Regions from separate parts of the Homo sapiens genome. Here region 1 is linked to region 2. Evidence: fine-mapped expression QTL. Tissue or cell type: whole blood. Region 2 holds a variant in brackets; the other region holds the start of a gene. All regions are shown on one strand. Distances are from middle to middle.

Region 1 (4,157 bases), 59 kb before region 2:
GGGCGAAGAGTGAGACCCTGTCTCAATAAATACATAAAAAGGCCAGGCGCCGTGGCTCACACCTGTAATCCCAGAACTTTGGAAGGCCGAGGTGAGTGGATCACGAGTTCAGGAGTTTGAGACCAGCCTGTCCAAGATGGTGAAACCCCGTATTTTCTACTGAATTTTGTATTTTCTACTGAAAATACAAAAATTAGCTGGGCACGGTGGCGGGCGCCTGTAATCCCAGCTACTCGGGAGGCTGAGGCAGGAGAATCGGTTGAACCCAGGAGGCGGAAGTTGCAGTGAGCGGAGATGGTGCCACTGCACTCTAGTCTGGGCGACAGAGCAAGACTCAGTCTCAAAAAAATAAACAAATAAATAAAAATAAGTAAATAAATAAATAAAAACTACATTGGTTCGGTGCAGAAAGACCGGAAACTTGAAGTGGGGGCTTCCACATTATAGGCAGATTTAAACATTTTCTGATTGGCAATGAGTTGAAATAGTTATTATCAATAGGCCTGGTGCGGTGGCACACGCCTGTAATCCAAGCATTTTGGGAGGCCGAGGCAAGTGGATTACTTGAGCTCAGGAGTTTGAGATGAGAGTGGACAACATGGCGAAACCCTGTGTCTACAAAAAAAATGGAAAAATTAGCCAGGCATGGTGGTGCCCGCCTGTAGTCCCAGTTACTCAGGAGGCTAAGGTAGGAGGATAGCTTGAGCCTGAAAGACAGAGGTTGCAGCGAACCAAGAACTCATCACTGGACTCCAGCCTGGGCAACAGAGTTAGACCCTGTCTCAAAAAAAAAAAAGTTATTATCAATAGAAATGAATGTCTGGGTTATGATAAGGGATTGTGGACACCAAAGTTTTATCACGCACGTGAAGCCTCCAAGTGGCAGGTGGGCTCCAGAGAGAACAGATTGTAAATGTTTCTTACCAGTCTTAAGGTCTGTTGTGTTGATGTCAATGCTGAAGGATGTAATGAGGCATGTCTCATGTCCTGCTTCCCGTCATGGCCTGAACCAGTCTCTCAGGTTGGTTACATTTTAGACTGCCCTGGCCTAGGAGGAAGTCCGTTCAGATGGTTTGGTGTTGGGGGGGGGGTGGGGGCTTAGTTTTTTGTTTTGTTTTGTTTTGTTTTTTTGGCTTACAGAGTTTAGACTGAAGCCTTTGACTCTGTATCTGGCATTTCCTTAGACCACATGCTGTAGGGCTGGGCTCATGAAGGTTCTCACCTACACACCAGGTTGCTCCCTTGAGAAGGGGGACTTTGCTGGATCCTATAACCTAGCTAGTAGGAAGTAAAGGAGCTTGGGAACCAGACAAGCCTGAGTTTAAATCCTCTTTCCCGCGCCGCCCCACCTCCACTGATAGGTGTGTGACTCCGGGCAAATAAGTGATCGTTTTCTGTGCCTCAGTTTCCTCATCTGAAAAGTGGAGCTAGTAAGAACTCACAGTGGTTGCTACGAGGCTACGGTTAAGGGAAGACTTCTCCTGCACACCTCAAGCACAGTTTCCCTCCCCTTGGCGATATCCAAGAGCACTCACATCCGCCACAGCCCTCTCTGCTCATCGGGCCCTCGGGGTAGAAGTGAGTTAATTCCTGGCTAAATGTTAGTCTCAAACCACCGGGAAAACCACCCAGTTGCCCCAGACAGTGCAGCGGAGGGTGGGTGCGGCTATCAGGTCGACGCTAGAGACGCGGCGAAGGCGGGTGCGGAGGCCTAGCTCCCCCGAGCGCATTCCACCCTCCACAGAACCTCGGCCTGTGACCACGGCCTTTCTCAACACTGCGCCGCCCCCTGGCCGCCCCTCGCCATCCCGCCGCGCTGACGTGAGTGCGCGCGCGTCCGCCGCGCCCGCCCCGGCGCATGCGCGCTCTGCGCTGTCTTCTCCCGGCCTGAGCAGCAGCAGCTGCGGCGGCGGCGGCGTTTGAGTGGAGGAAGATGGCGGCTCCGGGCGGCTCGGGGTCCCGCCAGCTGTGAGGAGCCCCGAGCACGGCTGTCGCGGCCTGAGGCAGAGCGCCTCTGCTCTGGCCCTGTCCCTGGCTCCCTCATTACCGTCGCCAGCGGAGCGAACCCGAGAGCGTGGAGCGGGCTGGGCCAGGTGAGGCCTCTCCTCCTCCCCGGGCCGCAGAGGGGAGCCGGCGCCTTCTGCCCTTTATGCCCGGGACTGGCAAGGGGCAGCGGGCGCCCGGGGTCTGACGCAGGCCCCGTATCCCACGCGGGGGTCGGTCCTGGTTGGGCAGGGTGACTTGCTATCGCCGTCCTCGAGTGAGGCGAGGAGGAGGACAGCTCCTTTCCAGCCAGCCCTTGGGTTGGGAGCGAACCCACCCCCTCTCCTCAGCAGGGTGGTTCTCGTCCCCTCACCCGGGCAGTGAAGGGGTGTGTGGCCCGGGCAAGGATGGCTTTAGGGTGTCAGGTAATCTTTCATCGCTCCTCCGAACATTTCACTCCTTTGCGAGAGAGGAGTCGGGGGTCGGGTGCCCATCAAAATTGGGGCTGCGGCTGGGGGCTAGCATCTCTGAACCTGCAGCTGCAAAGGGATAATTTTGGAATTGGTTTACGTTAAATAAAACACAAAAGGCCTTTCCTATCCCCTAGCTTGTTGAGTGTTCCCTTAGAGAAATGGGAACTGCGGATCTCCTTGCTTGAGACAGCAATCCATGCTGTGACTGTGGAAGGCTTCTCTTGGCGAGAATTGTGTGTGCAAAGGGAACGGTGGAGGGTGGGAACGAATTTGTAAGCGAAGAGAAAACGATTGTGAGATCTTGATGGTCGCTGCAGAGTAACTTCAGCGCTGAGTTCGTTTGAAACCTTCGGTTTGTTAAGATTCAGAATAACCAATTGCTTTGTCTGTTAAATCTCCCGATTTCTGTTAGGAAAATAAAAGCCTCATTTCTTAATTGCCAGAGTCTGGATTTTTCTGTGGTGGGATTCTGATCGATCTAGATGAAGATTCTGACACATTACCAGTTTTACTTGCTGGCAGTTGCTGGCCCCGACGTTGAAACTATGTTGTTCCTTTTTGAGAACAACTTTTATTGCTGTTTAAATGCTAATTGGGAGACTTCGATTGTGTTTCTGTCATGTAGGGAAGTCGGTTTGAAGCCTTGTGGTCTCTTTCTTGAGGAATGATGGCTTCACTGAACTTGTGCTATGCAGAATTGTTGAGGCGATTGCTTTTGCTTGGACACACCAAAATATCTTTTGTAACAAATTGGCTTTACTTCTGCTTAAGAATGATGACATCATGGATTTAAAGAGGCAAGGAAAATTTGGGGGAAGTACCATCATTTAGAATTGAATATTTAGAATTAAGTCTGTATATCTTATGGCCATTAGTGATGCTGTGTTAAATTGCTAACTTTGAGTGTATTCACGTGTGTAATCTGATTGGGTGTCTTTTCTATTGTATGTTGTCATTTTATACCCAGTAACTGTTTGCTTTTGACAAGCCAGTATAAATAGATGATTCAATCTACATTGATCCATAGGCATGTTGCGTATCTTAAAAAGCTTTTCATTGTTAAAATGACAACTGTTTAGGTTATTATTTGACCATTTTCTTTCTTTCTTTCTTTCTTTCTTTCTTTCTTTCTTTTTTTTTTTTTTTTTGCAGTTTCTCACTCTGTCATCCAGGCTGGAGTGCAGTAGCACAGTCTCGGCTCTCTGCAATCTCCATCCCCTGGGTTTAAGCGATTCTCCTGCCTCAGCTTCCTGAGTAGCTGGGATTACAGGTGTGCGCCACCACGCCCGCTAATTTTTTTTTTTTTTTTTTTTTTTTTGTAATTTTAGTAGAGACGGGGTTTCACCGATGTTGCCCAGGCTGATCTCAAACTCCTGGTCTCAAGCGATACCCTGCCCCACCCCAGGCTTGAGCCACCGTGCCCAGCCTCCTTTTCTATTTTTAAATCAAAGACTTTTCCATAGAAATTTGTCGATTTTCTTAGTGTCTTTGCTAAAGATGTAAATCTGAACCAGCAGCTTCTCTGTGGTAGAAAATTGGAGAGCTACTTTGCATATCAATTTGCTAATAAAGAGTCATGAAATTAATGCAGTAAAACATCCTGGTGGCTCATCATTATGCTTCTTGGCATAATATGTTGCACTGTTATGCTAAATCATCATCAGGTATTGATGCAACTTCATGACATCCATGACATCATTT
Region 2 (4,347 bases):
TCCCAGCTACTTGGGAGGCTGAGGCAGGAGAATCGCTTGCACCTGGGAGGCAGATGTTGCAGTGAGCCGAGATCATGCCACTGCACTCCAGCCTGGCTGACAGAGGGAGACTCCATCTCAAAAAAAGAAAGAAAGAAAAAAAAAAGATTCATTTATTGATTTGTGCTTCAGGTTTAATTTGAAAACAAAAACAATAGGAGAATTGGAGGAAAGGAATGGGAGGACAGAGTACATGTGTTGGCATACCTTTGCTTAGCTCTAGAGGATAATGATGCAGATTTAGATCAATTATGTAGCTGTGCTGAAATTTCCCTCATTTGAGCACCTTTAATGTGAATTATTATGTGTTCTTGCTGGACTTACACTGTTACATCATTGTCAACTTGCTTAGTGTGCTCAGAAATAAAATTTTCATAGCTTTCCTCTGGACCTTGTTTTAAAGGGTAATATATTGATCCACTTGGAGACAAGAGGCTGGTAATAGAAATTTGGTACTTGGTAACAAAATTGCTGAATGTGTGAAATAAGCTTTGAAAAATATATGTTATGGTTAAAATGTTGGAAGGGCCTCAGAATTTTCACAGCAGTTATTTGTGTATTTTCTTTCTAGGTGCATGCTATTATGATGCTAATCAGTCTATGTATGTGTTTGGAGGCTGTACCCAGAGCAGCTGCAATGCTGCTTTCAATGACCTCTGGAGACTTGACCTAAACAGCAAAGAGTGGATCCGACCTTTGGCTTCAGGTAAGAGATGAAATGCTGATCTTTGCCTCCTTACCAGGTGACTCCCTTGGCATGGAAACTCTACCTGATCATTTTTGGTGTTGGTCTCAAGGATGGGTTACTGGGACTCAGGTCCTTAAGTTTAATGTGCCATGTAAATGATAATAGTAATATGCTTGTGTAAGTCTTTGTTTTTTGTTAAATTATACTTTATCATTAGTAATGGTGCCCTGCCAAAATTGCTGTACTGCTGTGTGAATTCATTTGCATGGTTTTCTCAAGTATACTCATACAGGTGTGATACATCATTTGGTAGGAGGTTGAAGTAAGAACAGAAACACAGAGTCGTGAGAACTGTAGTTGACTGACAGAAGCTATTGTCCTAGGGCTAAGGTCTCTGAATATCTGTTGTTGTTGCCAGCTCAGATATTTGGGGAGTGTATGGGACGTGCCTCTGCTAGTTACTCTTAACAACCCAGGGGTGTGGGAAGATTCTACAGTAGGTACATTCCTACCCAGTCCCACTATGCCAGAAATCTGGCAGAAAGAAACTAGATTATTTTCTTATTTTTGACCTAACCTCTCCTGGGGGAAAAAATAAAAACAATGGTTTTTGCACTCATGAGGCAGGGCAATTTGAGGAGGCATAGATTGGAGGGGTTGGTGTGATGGAGAAATAGTGTCCACTGAGTATAAAGTATTCTGCTAGATTTTTTGGCAAGCTTTTCCCAAAACATTCATTTGGCTTTTTAGTATTAGGACTCAGTCTTAGGACTAAGGACATTTGGGTTTCCATTGGGCAAGTTCCTTATTTATTTAGGCCTTGCCTTACTACTTTGATTACCAGATAGGAGGCATCATTGTATATTAGAAAGGGCACTGGACTAAGAGTGAGGGGACATGAGTTTCATTTCCTGGCATAGTCACCAATTCTCCATGTAACTATAAATAAGTTATTGCACTTCTCTGGGAGAAATGTGGAGTAGTACTAAATGACTATTTTTAAATGGGCTAAAAAGGCTAGTTTATGTTTCCCTTTCTATAACCGCTACTGTGAATGTCTAGGCCAGGGACTTAAACCTGTTTATGAGAAGAAGCTGCATTTTGCTTCCCTAAAACTTAAGTTCCTGTTCTTTCC[A/G]CCTACATTAGGCAAATATAGGAGGAGCCTACTGAGTGGATACCATGGGTGGAGCTGGGCTTTGTGTAGATGAAGTTCTTTATTAAAATTATTGGCATTTGGAGGGTAGGAGGGTGGTGGTCCAGTCTGCAGATGGCCACACCAGGAGGAGGAGCTATTATATCCCCTTCTCTTCCACTTCCTGTCACAACCAATAAAGGCCGTTTGTGCCATTCATAAAAAACAAAAACAAAAACAAACCTACAAGCCAGGCCCACTGGCTCACGCCTGTAATCCCAGCACTTTGGGAGGCCAAGGCGGGCGGATCACCTGAGGTCAGGAGTTCGAGACCAGCCTGGCCAACATGATGAAACCCTGTCTCTCCTAAAAATACAAAAATTAGCTGGGCATGGTGATGGGTACCTGTAATCCCACCTACTTGGGAGGCTGAGGCAGGAGAATCTCATGAACCCAGGAGGTGGAGGTTGCACTCCATCCTGGGCAACAGAGCAAGTCTCCACAAAAACTATTGGAATAATAAAGAAATGGTAATCATATAAAAAGTTTGATAGCTAGAACTATTTCAGGGCCCTGAGAATTTTGTACTTTGGAGAATAACCTTTTCTAGCCCTTTATACCATATTGCACTTAGTGCAAATTGATTAATATTTGGAGTTACAGCTTCTGTTTTGTTTTGTATTGTTTTTTGAGACAAGATCTTGCTTTGTCACCCAGGCTGGAGTACAGTAGCACAGTCACAGCTTACTGCAGTCTCAGCTGAGTTATGGATTCTAAAATATAGAAGATCTTCTCAGCTTAAGCATCCTATTGCCACCATGCTTGGGATCTTGTACAGGTCTTATTTCAGAGGAGCTTTGATAGTTTCAGTCACAAAATACTATTACTGTCTTTATTTTGTAAACAAGCTTTATGCCTTTGATAATTTAGCATGGGTGGTGCTCTTTCTTGTTAAAATGGAGCTCTGGTTTGGGGACCTTCATAGCCTCTGCCAACTACTGTGCTTATTTCTCCCTGTAATATGGAGTAAGACTTTTTTTTTTTAAACCATCAAGTTTAAAGACTGCTTTGTGGCTAGGCGAAGTGGCTCACGCCTATAACCCCAGCACTTTAGGAGGCCAAGGCAGAAGGATCCCTTGAGGCCAGGAGTTTGAGACTCACCTGGGCAACATGGTGAGACCCCCATCTCTACAAAAAATAAAAACAAAAAATTAGCCAGGCATGGTGGCATGCCTCCATAGTCCCAGATACTTGGGAGGGTGAGACAGGAGGATTGCTTGAGCCCACAGATATAAGCCCAGACGCCTAGGCGAGAGTGAGACTGTGTCTCAAAAAAAGAAACAAAGAAAGAGAAAGAGAGGAAGGGAAGAAAAGAGGAAGGCAGGAAGGGAGGGAGGGAAGCCAAAGAAAAGGTTATGCTTTGAAATTCCCAAAGTAGAAATATTGGAGAAATAACTGCTTCAATCATTTACATTCTCTATGGAATATGAATTTTTAAAAATAGAGCATTTGGAATATTCCCTTTGACAAAACATACAAACTCCTGAATGTTTAAAGTAATTTTCTAACAAAATGTCTCAAAGAATCTAGTTACTCCCTCATCCTAATCTGCAATTAGAGGCTAGTTTTAGAAGGAGGAAAACCTGAGCTTTTTGAAATGTCTACTTATAAAAAACAATTGTTTAATAAAGAGTCCTGGCTGGGCACAGTGGCTCACTCCTCTAATCCCAGCACTTTAGGAGGCTGAGACAGGAGGATCTCTTGAGGCCAGGAATTTGAGACCAGCCTGGGTAACATAGTGAGACCCTGTCTCTACAAAACAATTAAAAATGAGCCGGGCATGATGGCATGTGCCTGTAGTCCTAGCTACTTGAGAGGTTGAGGTGGGAGGATTGCTTGAGCCCAGGAGTTCAAGGCTACAGTGAGTGATGATTGCTCCACTGCACTCTAGCCTGAGTGAAAGAGGGAGACCCTGTCTCAAAAAATAGCCTGGGCTTGGTGGCTCTCGCTTACAATCCTGGCACTTCGAGAGGCTGAGGTGAGAGGATCACTTGAGGCCAGGAGTTCCAGACGAGCCTGGCCAACATAGCGAAACCCCATCTCTACTAAAAAGACAAAAAATTAGCAGGGCATGGTGGCATGTGCCTGTAACCTCAGCTACTCAGGAGGTTGAAGCATGAGAATCACTTGAGCCCAGGAGGCAGAGGTTGCAGTGAGCCAAGATTGCGCCACAGCACCCCAGCCTGGGTGGCGGAGTGAGACTGTCTCAAAATAAAATAATAAATTAAAAAAAAAAAAGTCCCATGAGATTCTCATTTAGGCAGAAACCCCATGTAAGATGCCCTAAGACAATGTTTCTGTATGCTATCATGAGTCCTAATCAAAATCACTTCCTAACTGAAATGTCAATTAGTCCTTCTGAATAAAACATAGTTGTTTATAAGTCTTGGTGTACCTGACTCACTCATTTTAGTGCATCGAGGTAGGT

What was found. PIP is the estimated chance that this variant, and not a neighbour inherited with it, causes the effect.
Region 1: it holds the start of FBXO42, and the variant in region 2 is fine-mapped to the expression of FBXO42 in whole blood (TOPMed, PIP 0.99).

Annotation. Positions count from the first base shown.
Region 1 is chr1:16,350,191-16,354,347 of GRCh38, reverse strand. FBXO42 (F-box protein 42) reads left to right here and starts at 1,868. Exons shown (of 10, transcript NM_018994.3): 1 at 1,868-2,093. RefSeq lists an enhancer at 1,829-2,603.
Region 2 is chr1:16,291,181-16,295,527 of GRCh38, reverse strand. FBXO42 (F-box protein 42) reads left to right here. Exons shown (of 10, transcript NM_018994.3): 4 at 611-745. Among named protein-coding and RNA genes, the nearest start is that of CPLANE2, 56 kb to the right of the region's middle. The variant A/G (reference allele first, on the strand shown) is at 1,863.